Homo sapiens: one gene and its partners. The protein of the gene in region 4 binds, or shares a complex with, the protein of the main gene of each other region. Each region holds a gene or a part of one and is shown on either strand. Other genes may lie near its edges. The genes, in order: SH3BP5, RAB3IP, RAB11FIP2 and RAB11A. A codon is read from its position in the direction of its gene.

The links.
Region 1: the proteins of RAB11A (region 4) and SH3BP5 are in contact, whole or in part, in a crystal structure (PDB 6IXV), measured with the Homo sapiens proteins. Residues at the interface, in NP_004654.1 of Homo sapiens: Tyr8 (codon at 2,884), Asp9 (codon at 2,881), Tyr10 (codon at 2,878), Leu11 (codon at 2,875), Lys13 (codon at 2,869), Glu35, Phe36, Asn37, Leu38, Glu39, Ser40, Ser42, Thr43, Ile44, Phe48, Lys58, Gln63, Trp65, Tyr73, Ile76, Ala79, Arg82, Gly83; in NP_004835.2 of Homo sapiens: Asp42, Ile45, Gln46, Leu49, Glu50, Asn53, Thr56, Ile59, Asn60, Glu63, Thr64, Glu67, Lys240, Tyr243, Leu247, Leu250, Glu251, Ile253, Ser254, Asp255, Ile257, His258, Arg261.
Region 2: the proteins of RAB11A (region 4) and RAB3IP are in contact, whole or in part, in a crystal structure (PDB 4UJ5), measured with the Homo sapiens proteins. Residues at the interface, in NP_004654.1 of Homo sapiens: Phe36, Leu38, Glu39, Asp127, Leu128, Arg129, His130, Leu131, Arg132, Ala133, Pro135, Thr136, Leu156; in NP_783322.1 of Homo sapiens: Asn367, Thr368, Leu369, Ser370, Ile371, Glu372, Pro373, Asp412, Arg424, Thr428, Cys431, Asn432, Thr435, Tyr439, Leu444, Val445, Lys446, Gln447, Gln448.
Region 3: the proteins of RAB11A (region 4) and RAB11FIP2 are in contact, whole or in part, in a crystal structure (PDB 2GZD), measured with the Homo sapiens proteins. Residues at the interface, in NP_004654.1 of Homo sapiens: Arg33, Ile44, Gly45, Val46, Glu47, Phe48, Ala49, Thr50, Lys61, Trp65, Arg72, Arg74, Ala75, Ile76, Ala79, Tyr80, Arg82; in NP_055719.1 of Homo sapiens: Glu478, Ile481, Asp482, Asn483, Leu485, Val486, Met489, Glu490, Pro493, Ser494, Leu496, Arg497, Val498.

Annotation. Positions count from the first base shown.
Region 1 is NC_000003.12:15,259,563-15,266,603, forward strand, and holds part of SH3BP5 (SH3 domain-binding protein 5), read right to left. Parts: intron 4,937-7,041; exon of another isoform or gene 4,734-4,936; intron 2,728-4,733; coding exon 2,597-2,727; intron 1,021-2,596; exon of another isoform or gene 242-1,020; coding exon 199-241; exon of another isoform or gene 1-198. UniProt on the Homo sapiens protein: Functions as a guanine nucleotide exchange factor (GEF) with specificity for RAB11A and RAB25. Inhibits the auto- and transphosphorylation activity of BTK. Plays a negative regulatory role in BTK-related cytoplasmic signaling in B-cells.
Region 2 is NC_000012.12:69,790,834-69,797,874, forward strand, and holds part of RAB3IP (rab-3A-interacting protein isoform alpha 1), read left to right. Parts: intron 1-3,603; coding exon 3,604-3,681; intron 3,682-4,307; coding exon 4,308-4,511; intron 4,512-5,643; coding exon of another isoform or gene 5,644-5,769; exon of another isoform or gene 5,770-5,810; intron 5,811-7,041. UniProt on the Homo sapiens protein: Guanine nucleotide exchange factor (GEF) which may activate RAB8A and RAB8B. Promotes the exchange of GDP to GTP, converting inactive GDP-bound Rab proteins into their active GTP-bound form.
Region 3 is NC_000010.11:118,004,389-118,008,955, forward strand, and holds the end of RAB11FIP2 (rab11 family-interacting protein 2), read right to left. Parts: 3' UTR 528-4,567; downstream 1-527. UniProt on the Homo sapiens protein: A Rab11 effector binding preferentially phosphatidylinositol 3,4,5-trisphosphate (PtdInsP3) and phosphatidic acid (PA) and acting in the regulation of the transport of vesicles from the endosomal recycling compartment (ERC) to the plasma membrane.
Region 4 is NC_000015.10:65,864,966-65,872,490, reverse strand, and holds the start of RAB11A (ras-related protein Rab-11A), read right to left. Parts: upstream 3,001-7,525; 5' UTR 2,906-3,000; coding exon 2,866-2,905; intron 1-2,865. UniProt on the Homo sapiens protein: The small GTPases Rab are key regulators of intracellular membrane trafficking, from the formation of transport vesicles to their fusion with membranes.

The DNA of each region.
Region 1 (7,041 bases), on a different chromosome or scaffold from region 4:
ACTGAATGGCAGTTACAGAGGTTCAGAGACCACTGAAGACCCAACCGAGACAATTTTGAGGTCTGAAAACTCAGTAAAGCCTGTCTCTCCACTTTCCCCTTATAGCAAGTGGCCCATGTGATACTCTGCTACCCCAGAAAAGTGAAGCTTTGAGTGCAGAAAAATCTCATCAGTGACGAAGCCCAAAGCTACACATACCTCGAGCTGCACATAGTACTTTGCCTTGAGTTCAAAATAAGGCCTGCAGAAGACAGGAAGGAAAGCCATCAGAGTAATATAATACAGTGACCACAGTCAACTCCACAAGATGAACAAGAGGCATCAGCTACCACTGGCCAGGTCGTCCTTCCAATATTTAGTAAACTCTTAACAAGGCCGTGACATGTCAGTGATGCTCCTAGCTCTGGAGACTGACAGACACCAGATGGAACGACTGGGCTCACCCAGGGCTATATTAACAGGAGGCCCATCTCAAGACACGGGGAACCCACACACACATATCTTGGGGACTCTGCAACTTAGCTCATGTTCCTCCTCTGTGGGAAGGCTGTTCAGAGCCTCACAGGTTATACCCAGCAGTAAGGGTGGCCTGGATCTGCTCTCCTAATGAAGTTGGCTCCCCAGGGATGAAGAGCAGCTGAGGCTGGAGAAGGGGCTGCTTAAACCTCCTCCTCTACTGAAGTCAACTGGGGAAGAGAGAGAAGCACCACTCCTCCCTCACAGCACAGCAAGGCCACCACTAGGAGGGGGTCTCAGGTTGGTCCTCCCAAACCTTGTCCAAAGACTGGAGTTATTAGTTGGCTGACTCAGCCACATAATGGGCCCAAGAAATGCCAGCGTCCTAGCAGTTCCCTTGGTTCTGGGTCAGCTGAAAGAGCTTGGCTCTTTTTTAGGAACTTTGGTGCCTGAACATTAAGAGTAGATCACTGCTTTATTCTTGAGCTGTTCACCCTCCATGAAGCTCTCAAGTCCTGCATCCTGAGGATCCAGATGGATGACAAGGACACAGGACTGCCATTGGTGGGTATGAAAATCCTGAAATTTGGGGGGAGAGAGAGGTGTATAAGCTCTCTCGTGTGACCAAAAGGAGCACAAGGTGAAGAGTATGTGTGTGAATGGGCATCGGAGGGCACAGGGAAGATGTCCCAGCAAAAGGAACATGAGCATCCATGCAAGGGAGTGTGGCTGGAGAGGCAGGGTGGGCATGGAGGTGGCCTGGAAGCCACTCTGTGGAATGCACAGATGTACATTTTAACCTTTGGGCAGACAGGAGCCACCCAAGACTACGATCTATCCCTGTACTCTTCTCGGAGTCTGAAAAGGTTGGCAAAGTACAATCACAAGATTTATTTTCTTAAACAGGTTAATGGATGAGTATGTGATGTGTGTGCAGTGTGAATTCGGGGTCTTTTGAGAAAAGACCCACCATATTCACACCAAAGGAAGCAGCATCAAAGGCTGCTCCTCGGCCTCCTTGGGTGTTGGCATGTGGATGATGCCTGGGCTTGCCCAGAGCAGGCACAGGTCCTACAACAACCCTCGCCACCTCCTGCCTCCCCTGCAGAAAAATGCCATATACACGTCTACTACTTAGCTCTCAGGAGATCAGCCCCTGACACACCAAAAACCAAACCAAAACAAAAATACACTAGTCAATTAAGTGCAATAGTAAATGGTTAAATGGTGTTCCTCTGCATGTATGTGTACATATGTATGTTGGAAGAGTGTGAGCAGAAACTAAAGAAAAGTCAAGCCTGGGTGAAGGTACTGGGGGGTAGTACAGAGCCTAGGAGGACCAAACTCTTCCTTGCAGATCCTCTTCCTCACTGAATTGTCACCTTTCCCTCACTTGCATGAGGACTGGGCATCTGCCAAGCTTCCAACTGCCCAGCCCCTCCTGGCTGGGGCTGTGACCACACCTGGAGAACAGGCATTCAGTAGCCCTGCACAGCCTGCTCTGGGTCTATCTTTGGCTGTTAAGTCTAGGTCATCATAAGTCCTCCTCCTTTTGCTAGGAGGCCTAGCAATTGGGAATGAAGCAGGGGGCTTGTCCCCAAGAGAGGGTACACAGTTGTGCCTGCCCACCATTATCAATGTTGTATAAAAATATACAGGGCTGTAGTGAGAAGAGATTGGAGAAAAAAAAAAAAACTCTACTAAAGCCAGTCTTACAGCATTTTATCAGCTCTTGATCACAGGAAACATGTATTGTGAACACAACTCATCCCTATTACACTGACAGATAAATTGAGGGATAGGGCCTTGACAACACTGTCAACCACAGATCCCAGAGTACAGCGTGAATTTACCAAATCCCAGCCAATGGGCCATTTAATAATGTGCCTTTGAAATTCCTTTTTCTGTGTTTCCTAACTTAGTCATATCTAGAGCAGCCCACCCCTTAGCATCCTCTGCTTCTGGGGGTCATAGAATATTAGGGGGAAAGAGAGCCTGAGCAGGGGGGCTCTGGTGAGGCCCCAGGGTCTACATCAAAGGACTACTCAGGGTGGTCCTTGAGTGTGTGACATACAAAAGGCTGAGAAGATGCAGACTAGGACAGCCGCACGGCCCCAGGGAAGGCCCTGTCCAGACTTACTTGGACTTGTTGATGGCTCTCTTGAGTTTCTTCTCCAGCTGTCGCATGCGGCCCATGGCGGCATTGTACCTGGCTGCCGTCTCCTTATGCACCAGCTCGCTCCTGGTCTTGGTCTGCTCCGCCTCCATGACCTTAAAATGACAGCAGAGTTCAGCCCAGTCCAGCCCAGAACAGCCCAGGCTTGGAATATTACTTATATTATTTTTCAAAAAATATTCTTTGCCCGGGCATGGTGACACATGTGTAATCCCAGCACTTTGGGAGGCCAAGGTGGGTGGATCACGAGGTCAGGAGATCGGGACCATCCTAGCCAACATGGTGAAACCCGTCACTGCTAAAAATACAAAAATCAGCCGGGCCTGGTGGTGTGCTCCTGTAGTCCCAGCTACTCAGGAGGCTAAGGCAGGAGAATCACTTGAACCCGGAGGCAGAGGTTGCAGTGAGCCAAGATCGTGCCACTGCACTCCAGCCTGGGCGACAGAGTGAGACTCTGTCTCAAAAATAAAAATACTCTTTGGGCCAGGCACGGTGGCTCACACCTGTAATCACAGTCCTTTGGGAGGCTGAGGTGGGTGGATCGCCTAAGGTCAGGAGTTTGAGACCAGCCTGGCCAACATGGCAAAACCCCGTCTCTACTAAAAATATAAACATTTGCCAGGCATGGTGGCACATGCCTGTAGTCCCAGCTACTTGAAAGGCTGAGGCAGGAGAATCACCTGAACCCAGGAGATGAAGGTTGCAGTAAGCCGAGATCACGCCACTGCACTCCATCCTGGGCAGCACAGCAAGACTCCATCTCAAAATATATATGTATATATAGATATCTATATCTAGATATATATTTGAGCAAATTAGTGGTCAGACTAAGAATAAACCAACTTCCCAACAGTGGTTTTCTTTTCCTATTTATCTATTTTGAAAAAGCCTTGTGAGGAAAGATTAAATAGCTAAATTGGCTGTGGCAATGACTGAGAAAGAAAATGGAAAAACAAAAACCAGAAAATTTTGAACTATTTTCTGATTCAACAGCTGTCCACTTTCTTCTCAGGTTCCTCGATCTAAGTAGCCACCTAGACCTCCTCCCGTTCACACCTTGGGGCAGGGGCCTGATGGGCAGGCAAATGGCCAAATAGCAGCAGTGGGAACCTAAGAGATGGGGAACCTAATGGGGAGACCACCAAAACCAAGAACTAGGCATCGTGCCAGGCACGATGGCAGTCAAGCCAGCAAAGCAGCCATGACTTCCATTGTTTGGTCCTTTCCCAAATATTCTGAACTAGTTGGCTGTGCACAGAAGAACTCAGGATCCAGAAAGGGCAAACTTTACATTTAAGCAATTAAATTAAAACCCAGTCATTCACATCAGATTTTGAGGTACACAAACATTTGTGAGCAGAAGACAAGTCAAAGTTCTGGTGGGAAATTCTGGTGGGAACACTTTGTTAAGTCTGTTGAAAAAAATGAGTTACAAAACCAATACTCAAGGGCCCTCAATGGCCAAAAAACAAAAGCAGCTCACAGGCCCAGTCCCAGAGACATGGGCAATGTTAATTCTCTCCTTGCTTACCTACAGAAAAGCATCAGAACAAGGCCTGCCTTGAAGAAAGAGGAGGGAAACAAACCGCAGTTCAGGCCACATAAGCAGCTTGCGATTTCTTTCCCTGTCTTCTGCCTACCACTCAGTGTTATAAAATAAACCGGAGAGACAGTAGAGGTTAGGCTAAAGGGTTATTCTCTAATTCTGTATTCTCTGGGGAGCATCCGAGAGGAGCCCAGAGGGCTCATGGTCACTAGTCAGCTCTCTCAGACCCCGTAGAACAATTTTAGGGAGGTACCACCATGTCTTTAGTTCACAGTTAAAAAAGAAGGCCACAGAGGAAGGTTGCCAATGTTCTACCATCTCCTCCAGTCAACAGCCACAATCAGCCCTAGGATAGTTTACTTATTACTTACGATAAGGATTTTTAAAGGTACCATGAAAAATTATGAAAGACTTTTATATGGGCATTAAAAATTACAGGGTGTCCTGTCTAGGGCACCCTTCCAGGCTATCTCTGACTTTGTCTTGAAGCTGTTTTACAACCCTGTAAGTTGTAGAAAACTGACAGTAATACAAATGGTTTTTTTTTTTTTCCAGAGAAATGAAGATGAACTGTGTCACAGATGCAGTGGATTACTGACTGCCCTTGTAATAGTCCATTTTGCATCTGTTGGTAATTCATTGAGGCACTCTTGGTTTTCTATGAGTTTGTATTTTTTGAATTCAAGAATTGTAACATCACTGTTAGATCCCTCCTTATTTAATGAGAGAAATAAAATATTTGACACGAGAAAATTTTATATTTGTATCCCAATTATGCTTTTACCTTCTTAAAAATATCTTTTAACAAAGGCTTCAGTGCTTCAGATAATTTTTAAAAACAGAAAAACAACAAAATCAGAGAAGAAAAATAGGAGAGAACTGAGCTAAGCTGGCACGAGGAGACATGCTTGCTCACATGACTTCTCAACCAAGACCAAAGGGCTAAGAGAATCCTTTCCCTTTGCTTCCAAAACCAGATATTTCACAAGGAAACAAAATGCACTAAAAATATCTCATGCTTGATACTTGGGGAAACAGCAGTAAATCTTAAGCTTTAAGGATTTACTGGTATAACCTTTATGAAAACTCAAACCTTCAGGTTCATCAAAGACAACATGTTGGGGGTGATTGTTTTATTACAAAAAGATCCAATTAAAGGTTTACCTTTAAGGAGCTGTCAGAATGCATTTTCAACAGACTTGTAGAACCTGTAATTTGAGGGTCCTGTACAGAAAGAGTCCCCTGTAAGAAGCAGGATTCTCACCATCTGCACACAGGCCCTCATTCTATCTTGGCCTCTAGGCTGCAAGCAGAAGCACAGGCTTTCTACAATAAAACACTTGGAAAGCTCCGAGCCCATGGCAATACTGGCAGTGAAAACTGAAGAAGTGGCCAGCACATCACTGTCCCCTGCTTCGCCCCACCAGGCCACGTCTACCACATCCTGTCCCTATCTCCCCACTTCTCATATATATACAAAACCTCCAGGGCAGCCAGGTGCGATGGGGCTCATGCCTGTAATCCCAGCACTTTGGGAGGCCAAGGCGGGCAGATCACTTGAGGTCAGGAGTTCAAGACCAACCTGGCCAACATGGTGAAACCACGTCTCTACTAAAAATACAAAAATTAGCTGGGTGTGGTGGTTGGTGCCTGTAGTCCCAGCTCCTCAGGAGGCTGAGGCAGGAGAAAAGCTTGAACCTGGGAGGTGGAGGTTGCAATGAGCCAAGATCGCGCCGCTGCACTCCAGCCTGAGCTACAGGGCGAGACTCCGTCACACACACACACACACACACACACACACACACACACACACACACACAACCCTCCAGCTCCTGGAAGAGACCTCCACACAACTCAGCTTCCTGCCTTGAGGAAGAAGGTCACTAAGCATGTCGCCTTGGTTATGTCTCCTAGGTAATCAAGGAGCTCCTCTATCTACAGCCTAGCATCAGGCATGAGCTGTGTGCAGTGATGTGGGTCAGGTGTGGTGGGATAAGTAAGGAGGAGAGCGGCTCAGGGGTAGGTGTGGCAAACTGCACCCCATACTCCGGAGCAGCATACTCCGGAGATGCTGAAGATCCAGGGACCACAGAGATACTGCTCAGCCCCGGACCCTGCTCATATCAGCCCACAGAAAATAGCAAACACCCGGCACCTTCCCGCATGGGCACCACTGGGCACTGATTGGGTGTTTCAATCTGGCTTGGCCAGCCTCTTCGCGGGGTCCCACACCAGCAGAATGGCCCAACCGGCTTAGTAGACATCCACCAGGCACAGCTCCTCAGCCTCCTGTTACAGCTTTCTCGACTCTCCAATCTCCAGGGCCTTTGCACCCTCAGTTACACTCCCAACATCTCTTCCAACATCACAGAGGGGCGGTCAGGAGCCTCTTTGCCCAGGGAGGCAATCTCACTGTCTGCTGAGAACCTCCATTCTGACTGTTTCAGACTGTTTCCTGATTCTTACTGCGTCCTTGGGCAATGAGACCTAAGAAGGCGCTTCTTCCCACTGTGTGGAAGGGAGGCGGTTCACACCCACCAACGTCAGGGAGGCTGTCGTGAGCAGCTCCTCACCTGCCATCCCAGGCTCATATCCACTGTGAACCAGGAGAAGGGCTGGCCCTGCGTCGTGTCCTCTCCAGCAGCCACCTGGGGCTAGTTCAGAAACAGTTCGTGCCTCTCATTTCCAAGTCACATTTCCCTCTTCCTCTGTCTGAGCTCTTTCAGCAGACATCAGAAAAGCCAATTTCTCCCTCCCAGGATGCCAGCCCTCCTCTCTCAGAGGATGAAAAGCTATCACCTTCCCATAAAGGCTACTTCAGTGCCAAAACAGCTGAGGCTGAAGGGGTCCTATGCTGCCCAAG
Region 2 (7,041 bases), on a different chromosome or scaffold from region 4:
TCAGCCTCCCAAAGTGCTGGGATTACAGGCGTGAGCCACTATGCCCAGCCCCAAAGTAATCTTGAGCAAGAAAAATAAAGCTGGATGCATCACACTTCCTGATTTCAAAGTACATGACAAAGTTACAGCAGTAAAAACAGTATGGCACTGATATAAAAACAGACATGTGGACCAATAGAAGAGAATAGAGAGCCCAGAAATGACACATTTTTGGTTAGCTGACCCTCAACAAAAATGCTAAGGACACCTAGTGGGGAGTAGATAGTCTTATCAATAAATGCTGCTGAGAAAATTGGATATCCACATGCAAATGAACGAAATTAGACCCTGATCTCACACCATAAAGAAAAATCAATTCAAATGGATTAAAGACTTACACATAAGACCTGAAACTGTAAACTCAGAAGAAACAAGGAAAAAGCTTCTTGACATTGGTCTGGGCAGTGATTTTTTTGGATGTGACACCAAAAGCACAGGCAACAAAAACAAAATGGACAAGTGGGAGTACATCAAACTAAAAAGCTTCTGCCCAGCAAAAAACAGTCAACAAAATGAAGAAGCGGCATACTGAATGGGAAAACATTTGCAAACCGTGTATCTGATAAGGAGTTAATATCCAAAGTATATAAGGCATGCAGTAGCAAAAAACAACCCAATTGAAAGATGGGCTAGGGGCCTAAATAGACATTTCTCCTAAGAAGACATACAAATGGCCAACCGGTATATGATAAGATACCCAGCATCAGTAATCATCAGGTAAATGCCAGTCACTCCCCAATGAGATAGCACCCCACACTGGTTAGAATGGCTATTATCAAAATACAAAAGATAGTAAATGTTGGCAAGGATGTGGAGAAAAGGAACTTGTCCACTATTGGTGGGAATGTAAATTGGTACAGCCATTATGGAAAACAGTATGGAAGTTTCTGCTCAAAAAATTAAAAATAAAGCTACCGCATGATCCAGCAATCCCACTTCCAGATATATATCCAAAAGAAAATTGCTATCCTGATGAGTTATCTGTGCTTCCATGTTCATTGCAGCATTATTCACAGTAGCAAAGTTATGGAAACAAGTTATATGTCTATTGATGAATGGATAAAGAAAATGTGGGGGGTATGTGTGTGTATATGAATACTACTCAGTCTTAAAATGGAAATCCTGCCTTTTGCAACAACATGAGCGAACCTGGAGGACATTTTGCTAAGTGAAATAAGCAAGACAGAAAGACAAATGCTACATTATCTCACTTATATGTGGAATCTAAAATAGTCGAGCTCATAGAAGCACAGAGTAGATTGGTGGTTGTCAGGGGCTGGAAAGTGGGAGAAACGGGAGATGTCGGTCATTGGTACAAAGTGTCAGTTATGCAGGATAGATAAATTCTGAAGACCCAATGTACAGCACGACTATATCGTATGTTACAAATTTGCTAAGAAGGTAGATCTTGTTTGCGCACCACCTCCCCTCCAAAAAAAAGGTAACTGAGAGGTGCTGGATATGCTAAAAGAAAAACAAAATGATATGTATATTTCAGTGTTCATAAATATTTATTAAAACAGCCACACTAATTTGTGTATTGTCTATGGCTGCTTTCATATTGCAACAGCAGAGCTGAGGAGTTGCAGCTGAGGCTGTATATGTATACATAGTGTTTGACTCTTTACAGAAAAAGTTTACCGACTCCTGGTATAGGTGATACTTACATCATTTTCAGCTTTGGAAGGGCAGTGTGATGGAAAATTTTCAAACTTTTTTTGAGTCTACCTTTTGATGTTTTTTGTCAATTTTTAAAAAATTCTGTAAAAATTCTGCATGTCATCTTTTTAGCAACTGATCCTGCCCCAGTCTAGTGCTCATCTTTCCTTTTGGGGCTCCAATTATATGTATGTTATACCTTTTCACTGTAACCCTTATGTCTGTAGTGGAAAAGTCACCTAAAATTTCACATTACTCTAAGTTTACTTCACTATTTTGTTCTCAGATACCTTCAAACATATTTTAAAAACAAACAAAAAACTTTTCTAGCTTTTCTAATCGTTCTCCGTTGGAGGTTTGGTACAAATTGCATAATCCACTATTAATGAAAACAGAGTCCATTTCCAAAAATTTAGTCAACTATTCTCTCCATAGTATGAATTACTTTTTCATTTAAAGTTAAAATGTTACTTATCTTGAAGGGTCAGATTAGCTGTGTTTATTATTTTTAAAACATTGCCAGATAGTTTTGTGTTGACAGCCACTTGTCCCAGAAAAATTCAGCAAATCTGAAACATTTGTTATTTTTAAAAGGAGAATATTTAACTCATTAAATTTGACAGCTCTTAAGGACTTTGCCAAGATAGCCAGAATAATAGTGCATGGAATATCTTCATGGTTAATATCATTTTGCTATAAATCATTGATAGTAAAGATTCTCCTATTTAAACTAGTATAAGCTGCAAATTCACATTCATGGGCACACACAAACTGCAGTGTTACAATACTGTAAAAGCTAATGAACAAACGGGAAACAAACAGTCAAACTCTGATGTAAAGAACTTCCACCTTTCCATTCTACCACTGTGCATTTTGACAGATCTAGTGAGGGTGCCATTGTCAAACTATTCATTAAATATCTTTGAAGCTCATTTCCTTCCTTCCTCTGATAAATTGTAAACTAAAGTTCTAAAATGTAAGTTCTTAAATCTCGGGGCACTATCTCAAGCACCCTATATATGCTTCCAGTCCATTCTTAATCCCTTACAGGGATTATTCTATACAAGGGCATAATCTTTTAAAAATAAAATGATCATGTCTTCCTTAAAAAAACTGTAAGGCTTCATATTGCATTTAGAATAAAACCCACAATTCTTATTCCGATGTTTTATTTGGTTAATACATATAAACAGAATGTAAGCTCCTTAAGAGCAGGGACTTTGTCCTTTCCCAGTACGTAATCAGCATCTGGAGCAGTACCTCACAAGGAGATGACATGAGTAAATGTCTCATGAATAAACATTATATGAATAAAAAGGAATTAAATACCTAGAGTTTCATATTTGTGGTACTAGAAGATTAAAACTCTATTAAAGGGTAAACTGATTTGCCTTTTTAGGTTGCTCTTCACAAAATTGTCACATAATAAAATTTTGGGAATGTTTTTATTGAAAGCTCTAAGGCTTCTTAGCTGTCATTACTATAAACTGCAACATTATTGGTGTGTTAATGTTTTTACTTGTCCCTCCTGTATGTCTTTGCTTTGACTAATAAGAACATATATAGTGACCACATTATAAAAAGCTGACTGCAAAGGAGTTGGCTTTGACACATTGGTCATTGTTTGCCTTCGTCACATTCACAGTCCTTACGCAAGTATCTATCCGGATGATTGATCTCAACTTGGCTGCCTCAGTGGTAATAGGTCCTAAAAGAAGGCACCTATTCCTAATGTCTCATAGTTTGTCTCTGTTGTCAACTGCTGCTTCCATAGTTGACATTGAATACTTAACTTCAGGCTAACTTTTGGTAGTATATCTTTGCTTCAATTGTAAACATTTGGCAAGAACTTTTTGAAAACAAATGCTACTTTGTTTCTAAAATTTGAGATGTTAACTTTTTCAGGAAGCTCATAAAATGGTGAGAGAAGCAAATATCAAGCAGGCAACAGCAGAAAAACAGCTAAAAGAAGCACAAGGAAAAGTGAGTTTTTGCAGCTCTTAATAGTATAAAATAAATTTGTGATAACTGTTTTAAAGATACCTTAACATCTGTTGGATTTTGTTCTGATCGTAAAGTAGTGCTTGTTTTCAATTTGGAAACTACAGAAAAATAGAAGAAAATAGCTACTATGTAGGTATAATTAATAGTAAACATTTCGTGTCCATTTATATGAGAACCAAATGATTTAAAACCTTGTAAATCACATGAATTATCCAAAGGATTATAGAATCACATTTTAATGTTAATACTTAGTTTTTAAATTCACTGAGAAAAGCCACCTAAATGTTATTAGATTTTACTGTTTTAGGAGTGAACTTCTACAACTAATCATAAGCTATTATATTTTGAGGATTTTGAAAATTCACATAAATGTTAGATATTTTGGTAATTTTCACAGGCTCATTTGACGTTGTTAATAATAGATGAATCCAAACCATATGGAAACATCAAAAAACTTGATTTTAGTTTCTTTTTATTACTCCACAGGAAATACAAATTAAACTTACTTTTCATCTTTGAAAGTGTTTTGACCAGATTGCTAATATTTAGCTGCATATGTCATGAAACGTATTTAATGTATGTGACTATGTTGATTTCTTTCCAAGATTGATGTACTTCAAGCTGAAGTAGCTGCATTGAAGACACTTGTATTGTCCAGTTCTCCAACATCACCTACGCAGGAGCCTTTGCCAGGTGGAAAGACACCTTTTAAAAAGGGGCATACAAGAAATAAAAGCACAAGCAGTGCTATGAGTGGCAGTCATCAGGACCTCAGTGTGATACAGCCAATTGTAAAAGACTGCAAAGAGGTAACTCATCAAGGACTGTCCCCTCTGACTCTGTTGATACTTGTTAGTTCTCATCACTGAGGTGTCAGTTATCATTTTTGCCAGCAAAATTTTTAGTACAAAATAATGCAGTATTAAGATGGGGGAGGCTTTATCTAGAGCTGGCTGCTTTCAGGGATTCTTCAGTTCCATTTTCTACCTGGCTGACCTTGGAGTACCTGCTGGAAACTTGGTAAGTTTCTTAATCTCAGTATTTCATTAAGGGAGGAAACTGTCATGTGTTGTCTAGAGGAGAGTGGGTGGCTTTAATGATCTGGCTAGTCAAAATTTATTGCTAGAGTGCGCTTACAAAGTATGGATATAAGAAATATGTGAAAATAAGATGATTTTCTTAAAGATCAATACATTGCTTTTATTTAAATTCAGAGAGAATTTTATGTCAGCAAGGGAGTCCTAGAGTTAATTTAGATAATTAAGCAACAAAAAAATAGAAATAATGGTAGCCTTACAATGACATAAGGCTGGAAGACATTTTGCTAAGTGAAATTTCAAGTTATAGTAGAACAATTAGTGTCATTTTTGATCCCAAATTAGGTTTCACAGTTCAGCCAGTCTGTTATTCAGACACTTACAACTATGTAAGGCCACCATTATCATGTATCCATAACAATTAAAAATTTAAAAACGAAATAATGGGCCGGGCATGGTGGCTCATGCCTGTAATCTCAGCACTTTGGGAGGCCAAGGCCGGAGGATCACCTGAGGTTGGGAGTTCGAGACCAGCCTGACCAACATGGAGAAACCCTATCTGTACTAAAAATATAAAATTAGCTGGGCATGGTATCTCATGCTTATAATCCCAGCTACTCAGGAGGCTGAGGCAGGAGAATCCCTTGAACCTGGGAGGCGGAGGTTGCGGTCAGCTGAGATTGCGCCATCACACTCCAGCCTGGGCAACAAGAGCGAAACTCTGTCTCAAAATCATAATAATAATAATAGTCTTATTTTAAAAGATATGTTACAAAGATAACTGAAATAATATATAAATATTTTGAGCTGTTTAGAGTAAAAATTTTTAATCATTGTATACTGTGAGAATGCATTTCTAAGAGGATTGATCAATAATTTATGAAGCTTTCCCATTTCTTCTTAGAAGCCATCTTTTACATTGTTAAATTCAAGTCCATCATTAATCTTGAAGAAATGTGTGTGCTTGTTAAATTTTTGTATGGAAGCCAGGAGTTTATTAAATGGAATAACCAATGTTAACCTGTTTTAATTGAATTGCATTTTGACGAATTATCAATAAAAATGATGCTGGTAAGAGAGAAGTTCAATACTTGGTTAAATCTGAATGTAACCAAATCCAAAATTCACATTGGTTTCTGTTAAATATTTAAGAAACTTCTTTGTCCTAACTTTAATTCTAATTCTTTGGAATTTAAATAGCAATTTTAATTGCCTGGTACAACTTGTATTTTTGGTGTTTCTTACTCAGTATGTGTAAGTAATTATGTACTTTCCCCCCTATTTACACTAACAAAATTATAAGTGTCTTCTCATGGAACATGGTAAAGATTCATTTTTAGTTTTTGAAATCCCTTAAAATGTGCATAGGCAGCATATAACTTCAAAATAATAACCTTTGCTCTTCAGGTACGTGTTATAGTCTGATGTTTCATGAAAAACTTGTCAAAAAGTCTTACTAGGCAAAGGAATTACATAAATTTGACCTGTGTAAGTCTTAGAAAAATATGTAACAATCTGGAAGAAAATTAAGCATGTCCGTGTTTTTGTAGAAAATATGATGGGGCACTCAGTTATGACATTAGCAACATGTCTTCTGTAAACATTTAAAATACACATGCATGCATGCAGACATACATGCCCAGTGCAAGGCTTTGGGATCAAGCCACTTAGATTTGAATTCGGACTTTACTGCTTTCTTGCTATGCAATCTCCGGCAAATTACAAATGGCAATCATAATATCTGTCTTGCACAGTTGTGAGGATTAAATGCTTGTAAAGTGCTTACGGTGGTTCCTGGCAGAGTCAGCTCTTAATAAATGGTTTAAATTACAGCCTTTAAACTAGAATCTTTCCTTAGAATACCACTTACCTGCTTTGGGGTTTATGTCCTTTTTCTTTTCTTTCTTTTTTTTTTTTTTTTTTTTTTTAATAAATTTGCATCTTTCTTTTTTTTTTAATTATTGTTATACTTTAAGTTTTAGGGTACATGTGCACAATGTGCAGGTTAGTTACAGATGTATACATGTGCCATGCTGGTGCCCTGCACCCACTAACTCGTCATCTAGCATTAGGTATATCTCCCAATGCTATCCCTACCCCATCCCCCCACCCCACAACAGTCCCCAGAGTGTGATGTTCCCCTTCCTGTGTCCATGTGTTCTCCTTGTTCAATTCCCACCTATGAGTGAGAATATATGGTGTTTGGTTTTTTGTTCTTGCGATAGTTTACTGAGAATGATGATTTCCAGTTTCATCCATGTCCCTACAAAGGACATGAACTCATCATTTTTTATGGCTACAT
Region 3 (4,567 bases), on a different chromosome or scaffold from region 4:
GGGGACTGGAAGTGGTGACTGATTAATGACTTCTGGTAGATGCTGGAGGATAAGAAGTGGTGAAAAATGCTACCGGCTGTACCAACCCTATTCTACTTTCTTCAGTACCACAAAAGGTTTTCTTACATTTCCTCTGAAAGCTTGTGCATTCCCTACCTTACAGGGTTGTTGTGAGAAATAAAATAAAGCATAAATAGGAAGTACTCAGCAGAGACCTTAGCCTATATATAAATACTCAAATATCATTTCTACTAAATCGTAAGCTCCATCCCTATGAGGGGATGTCTTATATGTAGAGGGCATCCACACATTTGTTGAAGAATGTTCACTTGTACTTAAAAACTACTCTTTTGAATGACTTTTCAGAACTATCTTCATAGTAAAATAAGTTTGTAGGTCTTACAGAATATGTGCTACAATACACCAAATAAGAGGCATCCTAGGTATTTATTAAAAAACAAGGAGGACTCATATATAAATCCATTATGGTAACACCGCTGTATCTGTAATAAATGTTGACAACTGAATTAAGTTTAAACACTTTAATCAACTATAAGTCAATAATCATATATTATATAAAAATTCTGATTCATGCATCAGATTACATAAATTATACAATTGTCACATTATACAATGCTTACATACTTTTGAATTTGTACCTGCAAAAATGTATACAAGTTATGAGAGCATTTACTTAAGAAGATAAGTGTTATACTCTTCAGTTATAAATAATGCTTCTATCTTTCAAATACCCGCTAAATATATGCATTTCTAGATCTGCAGCATTTTTTTGTACCTCAAAACACAAACCATCTGGAAGCTTCGAAGACTAACAGGCCCACATGTATCATGTATTAGACTTCAACTCCACTGTGAGAGTGCATTTTTTGATGGATAAAACAAATGGAATGAAACATCAACTCTATTTTAATGCTTGAAGAGCTTCTATACCTCTTATTAAATATATCAGAAAATGCTTCATATGCAGATTAATTAGCTAAGGTGCTACCAATTGCATATTAAATACTTCCAATGATTGCATCTGGATTATTAAAGTTCTACATCTGTGCAAATGGGGGCTTTCCATGTGTGCTGACAGACCCTTCTACATACCATCATGGCCCAGCAGCACTGTGATCCTTTCCCTTATTTCAAAGGGACCAAGTGAATGAGCATGCATCATACTTCACTTACACATACACACAAGTGACACCTACCACCTACAAGACATATGAGTACATGAACATCAAAAAAGTTTCAGCTTGATTTACAAATCCAAGGTAAATTGCTTCTTCTGAAAAGCTACAGAGGAAAATAAAAGCTCTAGTGTAACATTTACTGTAGATATATTAGACAACAGTTTTTTGTTTTTTTTTTTAGATTCTCTTTGTTAAAGAATAAGCACCCTTCCGGGGATGGTAGGCAGGGAGGCGTGGTGGTGAGGGAGTTGCTGGAGGAATAACAAGAAGAAAACAAGTCTGTCACTAATGAGCTTAGTTTTACTTAGGTTTCCATTCATGAAACCCTTTTAAATACAAGGCAACATTTTCACAGCTGGAAAATTACAACTAAATCTTGATTTACCACCAAAAGCAATAGATGTAGTTATGTATAATCTATAGATAATACTACATTCAGGGGACAATGGCAAAACTAGGCTCAATGCAGAACATAGCAGCAAAAAGCAATACTTAAAAACGTTTTTCATGAATGGGTTACATGTTGTTTTATATACAATTCTAAGATATGACCCTGGTATTCAATAAATGAAACTTGAAGCGTAAGTGGTAGGAAGGTATGTTCAATATTTTTAAAGCTGAATTTTAGAATTGGTTATAAAATAATACTGCTTTAAAAATAATAGCAGAAATAGTTTAATTATGTAACAGAAGTACATTAGCTTAAGATAGTCTTGAGATAAATATCAATTCTGTGATTTTAAAAAATCCTCTTGTTGGTAGTAGTGTTTTGGGCATGCATTCTTTAAAGCATAAAAGCAAAAATAAACTCTATAATCTAGTGTACTGTGCATTATTTAATAAGCACATATATTTTATTTCCATTTCTAAGCAACTAACAAAATACATTAGAATACCTAAAGTTATGTTTTGGAAAAATAAACTAAGGTGACCTTTTTGGCCTCTTTTTCTACAACGTGAGAAATTAAAACTACTTTGCACTTCTGCCCAAACACAGGAAACACTGATATATTTACTTGGGAACTAATTTTTACTTTTTGTTTTTAGTTTTATTATTTTGACTGATTATGAAAATATGCAATAAGTTTACTCTAGGTAATGAGTGAAAATTCACAAACATTAGAACAGCAAATTTTCAGGCAGTGATGAATGTATTAATAGATCTAGTTTTAAATATAATACTTGTCTCAGATTTAAAGATAAAAATTTTGATTGAGTTATAACCAAATCACTCATGTATGAATAAAGCTAAGCCTCAATAGCTTTTATATAGGAAAAGAATCGCTCCTTAAAAATCAATTTCCCCATAAAAAGAAGAGCAGTACTTGAACCATACTTTTAAATGAGTTCTATTTATGTAAAACATATCCCCAATACAAAACTGACATCTTGGTTCACTCTATAAACAGCAAATTTGGCCAAAGCATATTATTATAGTATCTGCAGATACTGTCATAATACTGAAAACATAGATTTTCACATTTTAAGAAGTGTATGAAAAGACTCAATAATACTACCAGACAAAAACAAATGCTGAGAATTTTGTAACATTTAGTTAATTAAAAGTGGCACCATGTTTAAAAAAAAAAAAAAAACTACCAAGACCTCAAACGGGAAAATACCATTCTACACCAGACTTTGAGGTTTATTACAGAATCTTGAGGAGAAAAAAATTGATAAAAGCTATTTTTCCTTCTCCATTTCTTAAAGCATTTAATTTTTATGAAAAAAATGTTCATAATTTCAAAATGTATGTTCTTACAGTAAAACTGAAATGCAGAAGATACAAATAACAAGGGGTTTTAGTTTACAAATACGAGCTTGGCCAAGTATTCTCTGATTCAAAATACTAAAATAAGCAAAAAAAAAAAACCCAAACTATTATATCGGCTTTTTGTTTAACTTTCAATGGAGTCTTAACAGAGATAAGTATTAGAAAAAAATGCAATTCATGGAAAGATTGGGGAATATGTAAGTCTCCATATGGACATGAATTTTCATTTTAAATTCAGAAAGACATAGATACTCTCAGTGTTTTATAGTATTTCAGACTTTAAAGGCTGAAAAATAAGCAGAAGATTAGCAATATTTTTATAACATTGCTTGTCAATTTAAATTTCAGAAAAAATTTGTACAAATCATATAAAAATAATCCATGGAAGAAATCAGTATTTTGGGGGAGTGGACTTTAAAATAGAACATAATTTTGTAATAAATCAATTCTTAAAGGGTGGATGTGGAGTAATGCATAATGTCACGCTCGTAAAGTTCTCTTCTAAAAACTCACTCTTCCTTTAGTAAGTCTTATTTTGGTTCAAGACCCAAAGGCAACCATCTGCTCTATTATTTATGTAACCTGAAACCAAGCCTAATTCTTCATTCCTGGAATCTGCCCGCTGCTTTGGGTTATCAGACACACCAGGCAATCACATACTTCCCACAATTATTTTCAGATATAACTTTATAATATTTGCTTTGCTAGTGATTTAAAGGCATGCAGAATTTCAACAAAACAAGCTATATTAGCTTATCTTCTGCTTATACCTTAAACAAACTCAAATGTTAATTAATTCAAATAAATTCATGCTGTTATGAAGTTAATGAAGTCTCCTAAAATTTGTCATTCTTTAAAAAAGGACTTGAGATCATCACTTTTGGGGAAAGAGAAAAACTTTGATGCTAGAATAATATATAGCAGCTCACTTTGAAACCAAGGTCCATGTAGTCAAGAGTGATTTGAAGCAGCTTCTCTATAACAAACCATGACAGTAGGAAGGATGACTTGTCTTGCATCAATAGAGCACACACATTTTCAAATCAAGAAATTGGTAGCCTAACTTTAGAGGCAATCAATTGTTTCTAAATGTTCTAAAAACACATGTATATATGAGGTATATGCCTATATTTTATATACAAGATACATGAATATATATATATTCATGTACATATGTGTATATAAAATATAAACTGTTTTTTTAGTAGTGTTTATAACGAGCAGTATTCCTGAAGCTAAATATTTCTACAAACTGATTTCTGAGAAACCAGCCACAGGATCAATTCTGCTTTATGAAAAATCTATTCCTGAGGAACAACTCACGTACTTCTGAAGATATTTCTGGGCCTATGGCAGATTAGTGGGTCAGTACCAGCACCTGAGTGAGTCCTAAGGAACCACTTATTCATTGAGAATCTGGCCCATTTTCAATTTAAACATTTAAATGATTTAGCTTGCTTCAAAGGTCACTCTTGATAGTCCCTGCTAATATTTACAGGTAAAACTACTCTTCACAATAAAGGAGAATATGTAATGAAACCTGATAGTGTAGTCTCTTTCAGTAACAAGTTTTTCCTTCCTTCCTTCTTTCTTT
Region 4 (7,525 bases):
TGCACTCCAACCTGGGAAACAAGAGCGAAATACCATCTCAAAAAAAAAAAAAAAAAGTAGAAATCCTCCTTAGCAGAATTTTTAACACCCTATCTTAAACAGCAAAATGCACAACAAAATGAAACCATAACCCATGGAAACATAAAATGCATTCGAAGTTCCTAGTTTTATTTTCTTTAATAATATTTAAATGCTCTTGTAGTTGAACCTACATTTAAGGTTCAAAAAACTGACAAAGGCCAGGCACAGTGGCTCACGCCTATAATCCCAGCACTTGGGGAGGCTGAGGAAGGTGGATTGCTTAAGTCCAGGAGTGCGAGACCAGCCTGGGCAACATGGCAAAACCCTGTCTTTACAAAAAAACAAAAAACTAGCCGGGCGTGGTGGCGCGCTCCTGTAGTCTCAGCTACTCCTAGGAGCTAGAGAGTAGCTAGGGAGGCTGAGGTCGGGGGGTCACCTGAGCCTGAGGAGGCCGAGACTGCAGTGAGCCTTGATTGTGCCACTGCACTCCAGCCTGGGGGACAGAGCGAGACCCTGTCTCCAAAAAAAAAAAAAAAAAAAAAAAAAAAAACTGACAAAACCACAGTAACTTCTTTCACATTATTACCATTTATTGAGTCCTCATGGTTAAAATTTTACGAACAGTCTCATTATTTAATTCTCACAATCTTAAGAGGCAGGTATTTTCCTTTTTATAAAGTAGAGAACTGAGACTCAGAAAAGTTAACTTTTCCAAGGTCATAAAGTAAATATAAGACCTGAGTCAGGATCTAAACCGAGGTCTACGTGATTCCAAAGCTCAGTGCTCTCAATTGTTGCTAGAAGGATGGTCTAATCAAAAAGTTAAAATACTTTAGGCCAATTCAGAATATTTAATATTCTTTGTTAAAAAATAAAAGGACCTTGTATAACCAACATTCAAGTTCAAACCAAACAGGAGAAATACCCTGACGGTCTATCTTGTTCTGAATTAATTACTTCAAAGACAACCTTTATAAAAGCACACTACCATTATACCATATTTCAAAACACAAACCTAACCTTTAACCCCAAAGTCTCAAGAGATTCAAATAGTTTCACATCATCTCAGATACCTTCGGCAAAAGGTATGCTGTCATATACTTTTTGTAATCCAGGCCTCAGTTTTGTATTTGTAAAATGAACTAAGTACCCTGAAAGTACTTTCCAGTATGGAGGGGGAGGGTGGATACCAAAAGTATTCACCCTATACAGTAGAATATTCTGAGTCAGAGGAGTAAGAGATGATAAGAGTATAACAGCAGACTAGTTAGTATAACAAGATTTGCAAAGTATTGGGAAAGCAAAGAAATCTTTCCTGCTTGGTTTAGTCAATCATTCTTAGCACCCAATGGCAAAGACAGAAACAGTCACCATGCTTAACACTCTTGAAACTCCACCCTCCACAGTAAAGCTTTAATAGCAATGGCTTCTTCCTCAGTGGTAATGATCTTTGTTCGGCACACTACTGATGGCTACCTTCCCAATTCAGGAGCAGAGAAAGAGCATCAGAGTGAGAGTGCATTCACTGAACAAAAAAAGCATCTACTGTACTCTCTTCTCATTGAAAAATGTACCCTTTATCTTCGTTGATTAAAAAAAAAAACCGGATTCCTTCCGGACTCAACCAATAAGCAATTCTTTCTAACCAACCCTGACCCTCCAATATGTTCTGTCCAAGGGCACTACATGTTTCCGTATCTTATAATAAATATTTAATGTAACCAAAAGAGCACACAACTTCCTCCCACCCCCAACCTTTTGGGAAAGGTATGTGGCTAACTAGGGCTCTTCCCTTCCTGTTGGATCCTCCCAGCGTTGCAGCAGGAAGCAACCAGTTCATAGAGATAAAGCAAGCTAGTATTTGTGCAGCGCACAACCTTTCCTGCTCAGGAACCAGGCCTTCAGGTCTGGCAAGGATAACAGCCACCACCCATCCGCAACCTCATCTCGCGAACCGAGTAAAGAGTTATCCCGGGTTGGGTGCCACTGAGTAGGGAGGGCAAGAAAAGAAAAGGCTAGGTGGGAAGTAATGTCAGCCTGCCGGGTCACTGCGACAAGTGCGCGAGTGGGTGATGGGCGATCCCTCTTACCCTCCCTCCCACCACCCAGGTCGCAACGGAGACAAGGGAGCTCTAAACACGATTTGGGGAGGGAAGGTAGAGAGAGTTGCCAAATGGGGAGTGGGAGAGGGAGCGGTCAGAGAAGGTTAAGGACCGCGAGAACCGCGGGGCGGAGGGTGGGGGCGGAGGCCCTTGGCCCGCTCAGATTTTACGGGGTCCTGGACCCGGGATGGGAGAAGCTTAGAGGGGCGGCCGTCCAAGTGGAGGGGAGATACAGAAGAGACGCTCGCTCGAGGGGGGAAAGAGGGCAGATAAGAAAAAGACCTGTAATGGGAGTCTGCACCGAAGGCAAGGCCAAGAGGGAAGCGAAGAACCCGTCAGAGGGGCTTCGGGAGAGGACGCGAGCTGGGAAGGGTGTACGCCGAGGGGGAGGGGGCGCTACACCCGAAAAGAGAGATGGTGGGAGGAGCGGCGGGGCCGTAGAACCCGGGGAAAGGAATTCGACGATGTGGGAGAAGGCAGTCCGCCAGGGGAAGGACACGCAGGGAGGGGCTCTGAGGCCAGCGAAGGCCTATGGAGAGGTCGCTCAGAGAGCGGCATGTGATGGGGACCCCTGTCTGAGCGGGGGAGAAGAGGCTGAGCTGGGTAGGAGACGGAACCGCACAAAAAGGAAGGGCTGAGGGAGGCCTATATCAGTGCAGGGGTGGCCGGCACGAGGGTCCACCGGGAGTGGCCCGGGTCCCCGAACGAGGACTGTGTAGAGTGCGAGAGCCCATGGCCTCACCTTTAAAGAGGTAGTCGTACTCGTCGTCGCGGGTGCCCATTGCGCGGCCGAGGAGCGAAAGGGCGGGAGCAGCAGTGGTATCTGTGGGACCAGGGGGCGTCGCTGCAGGGGTAACCCGAGCGCCGAGCTTCAACTGCCGGACTGGGTGAAGAGCCCCTCCCTGCCGCTGCGCCATTTCCGGCAGGCCCCAGCCTTTAAGGGGAAGTACTTCCGGGGGCGGCGCCCCGCCCCTGAGCCCAACAAGGGCGGTGTGCGCGAGAGTCGAGATGCGTGGGGCTTCAAGCTTTAGTCGCTAAAGGAGGCTCAAAGGGGAAACTGAGTCCTGGAACTCCTAGCTACCATAGTCTTAGTGGCCGCTTGCTCATTTCTCGAGCTACCGTGCCGGAAGCGGCTCGCTGGAACCAGGCGGGACCGCCTGTGAGTGGTGGGTTTGTGGATGGGGGCGGGGTTCTCTGAGGATTAGACAGCCGAAGGCAGCTACACATGCGTGGCGGTTCCATGGTGTAATGGTTAGCACTCTGGACTCTGAATCCAGCGATCCGAGTTCAAATCTCGGTGGAACCTGCATTGGTTTTTGTTTTTTTAATCTTGACAACATCTTTAATTCACTTTTTTGGTCACTAAGTAATTGAACAACTATGACACATCTTAAGATGGAGATGTAAAATTTAATCCTTGCCTATGAAGACCTCACAAATTTCCCACTGCATTTCAGGTGCTATCTGCTACCTGGCGGGGGGTTGTCTTAATGAGCTTCTTCACTGCCTTTTTTTTAACCCTGGGCTTTCAAGCCTTGATTCAAAAGCTTCAGTGAAACTTGAAAATTCCTTTTGCTGGAATTTTCTACCTCCAGCTTCATGCACGGGTAGGCGCTTGTCACTCACTCCTCTCCGGAAATCTCGCAATCTATCTCATTTTCATTTAGAGTACTTCGCCCACCCTCCTCATCAAGATTCATCAAGAACTTGAGTCCTATTTGTAGGCCTCTAATCTAAGTCCGTTTACATAAGTATTTCATTTAACATGCCAAGCAAAGGATGGTAATTTCCATTTTAGCGGAAGTTTGGATACTAAGACTCAAGTGATTTGCCAGATATCATGTCGCAGGGCCTCCCTGTATTTGAAGAGAATTTTGTCATTCCAGAAAAGCCTTTATCCAATTATTGTCACACCTCCTACCTCCTATATGCAAACTCTCGATTTAGACTTGTGGGCAAGTATGCCTATAACAAGCAGAATAATGCCCCCTGCCAATGATGTCCACTTCCCAATTCCTGGAGACTGAATAGGTTAGGTTACATGGCAAAGGGGAATTGAGGTTACAGATGAAATTAAGGTTGCTTATCAGCTGACATTAAATTAGGGATATTATCCTGGATTAGTTGGGTGGGCCCAGTGTTGTCATAAGGTCCTTAAAAGTAGAAAATGGGCTGGGCACGGTGGCTCAGGCCTTAATTCCAGCACTTTGGGAGGCCAAGGTGGGTGGATCACCTGAGGTCAAGAGTTCAAGACCAGCCTGGCCAACAAGGTGAAACCCTGTCGCTACTAAAATACAAAAAATTAGTCTGGCGTGGTGGTGGGTGCCTGTAGTCCCAGCTACTCTGGAGGCTTAGGCATGAGAATTGCTGGAACCCGGGAAGCGGAGGTTGCAGTGAGCTGATACCACGCCACTGCACTCCAGCCTGGGCAACAGAGAGAGACTCGTTCTCAAAAAAAAAAAAAAAAAAGTGGAAAATGGAGGCAGAAGAGGTCAGAGTGATGTGACTTGAAAAGACCTCAATCTGCCCTTGCTGGCTTTGAAGATGGAGGAAAGGGCCCAGGAGCCTAGGAATCTGGAGGCTTCTAGAAGCTGGGAAAGGCATGGAAACAGATTCTTCCATAAGGCCCCCAGAAGGAACACAGCCCTGCTGACAACTTGATTTTAGCCCAATGAGACACTTGTCAGACCTGTGACCTACAGAACTTTAAGCAATAAATTTGTGTTGTTTTATGTCACCAAGTTTGTGGTAATTTGTTATAGAAGCAATAGAAAACAAATACAGTGCCAATTTCCGTGCTTTCTCTACTGCTATAAAGTGATAGTAAGTTTATCTAAGGTCCTGTAATCCCAGCTACTCAGGAGGCTGAGGCAGGAGAATTGCTTGAACCAAGGAGATGGAGGTTGCAGAGAGCCGAGATTGCGCCACTGCACTCCAGCCTGGTGACAGAGTAAGACTCCTCAAAAAAAAAAAAAAGAACACTAATGTTTAATTTAGTCTCAAGCATGACTAATAAAAATGGTGTGTTGGTTAATACTGAGTGTCAGCTTGATTGAATTGAAGGATCCAAAGTATTGATCCTGGTTGTGTCTGTGAGGGTGTTCCCAAAGCAGAAACAGTTGAGTCAATGGGCTGGGAAAGGCAGACCCACCCTTAATCCGGGTGGGCACCATCTAATCAGCTGCCAGCGAATATAAAGCAGGCAGAAAAATATGAAAAGGCTAAACTGGCTTAGCCTCCCAGCCTACATCTTTCTCCCGTGCTGGATGTTTCCTGCCCTCGAACATTGGACTGCAAGTTCTTCAGCTTTGAGACTCGCACTGGCTTCCTTGCCTCTCAGCTTGCAGAAGGCCTATTGTAGGACCTTGTGATCATGTGACTTAATACTACTTAATAAATTGCCCTTTATATATGTGTCTATCCTATTAGTTCTGTTCCTCTAGAGAACCCTGACTAGTACAGTTGGTAAGAAAATCAAAAGGAACTCTCTAGTAAAAAGCCTGGAATTATAAATTTAGAAATGCCTAGCCTTAGACTATGGGGGAGAAGCAAGACCTGAAATATATCTCACCCTCCACATCTGGGGAGGTAACTTTACATGTTTGTTAAAAACAAAGTGAGGACTGATAAGTCTGTGTTTATACTTCAGCTCAGCCATTCACTAAAGCTGTGTCAATTTCAATAATTTAATCCTGCTGAATCCCAGTTTCTTACCTGCAAAATGGGGACAAACAGGAAGAAGGAATTAAGTAACAATGTATAGCTGTTAATATCATGCATGGCATATAATAAATATTTATGAATGCATTGATTTTCTTTTCTCTTTTTTTTTGAGTCAGGGTCTTGCTGCGTCACCCAGGCTGGAGTGCAGTAGTGCGATGTCAGCTCACGGCAACCTCCATATGCTGGGCTCAAGCAATTCTCCCACCTCCACCTCCACCTCCCAAGCAGCTGGGACTACAGGTGTGCGCCATCGCACCTGGCTAATTTTTGTATTATTTGTAGAGATGGGGTTTTGCCATCTTTGCCCAGGCTGTTCTTGAACTCCTGAGCTCAAGCGATCCTCCCACCTCAGCCTCCAAAAGTGCTGAGATTACAGGAATAAGCCACTGCACCTGGCCAAATGCAATGATTTTCAACGGGTCAATTTGGTCCCCAGAGACATTTGATAATATCTGGAGACATTTTTAGTGTCACTACTTGGGAGTGCTACTGGTATCTAGTAGAGACCAGGGATACTGCTAAACGTTCTACAACACACAGGATAGCACTCCCATCAAAAAGAATTATCTGGCCCAAAATGTTAATAGTTACCAAAGTTGAGAACCATGAGTTATTATTTTAAGAATTAGCCAGATGCGAGGCCAGAGCCTATGATGGGAAAGGGGCAGGGTGCCATGATCCTCACCTCCCTGTCCTAGCTCATTTGAAGAAAGCGAACTCACTCCCTAGGTCTCAGGAAGAATGCCCAGGGACAGACGTTCCTCCCGTCAGTATCCCATAAAGCAGAGCCTGGGGGCCACCGGCCTGACACAGAAAGCTTCCATAGTGGCTTCCATTTGTTAAATAAACCTATCACTCTTCTATTTCTTTCTTTTTTCTTATTTTTTTCAAGATGGAGTCTCTCTTTATCGCCCAGGCTGGAGTGCAGTGGTACTAACTCGGCTCACTGCAACCTCTGCCTGCCAGGTTCAAGTGATTATCCTGCCTCAGCCTTCTGAGTAGCTGGCATTACAGGCATGCACCACCACACCGGGCTAATTTTTGTATTTTTGTAGAGACAGGGTTTCACCATGTTGGCCAGGCTGATCTCAAACTCCTGACCTCAAGTGATCCACCCACCTCGGCCTCCCAAAGTGCTGAGATTACAGGTGTGAGCCACCGCGCCCGGCCTCAGTGTTCTATTTCTTAACTCAAAGGATTTTTACAGGGTTGTTCCCTTTATAACTGTGTGTTAAACTCTACATACCAGTTTTATGCACTTTTGTAATAGTATTAGGTTTATTTCACAATACAATTTTTAGATGGGGCATGGTGGCTTGTGCCTGGGAGGCCAAGGTAGGAGTATCACTTGATGCCAGGAGTTCAAGACCAGCCTAGGCAACCTAGCGAGACCCCCCCTATCTCTACAAAAAATGGAGAAATTAGCCAGACATGATGGCACCTATGTACCTATAGTCCCAGCTACTCAGGAGGCTGAGGTGGGAGGATCACTTGAGCCGAGGAGTTCAAGGTTACAATGAGCCATGATCATACCACCACACTGCAACCTGGGCAACAGAGCAAGACTCTGTCTCCAAAAAAAAAACAAAAATGTTTTTGAGAGAGAAAAGTTGACAAACCTTATGAAGTGAAATTTGGCCCAGCATGGTGGCTCCTGTCTGTAATCCCAGCAATTTGGG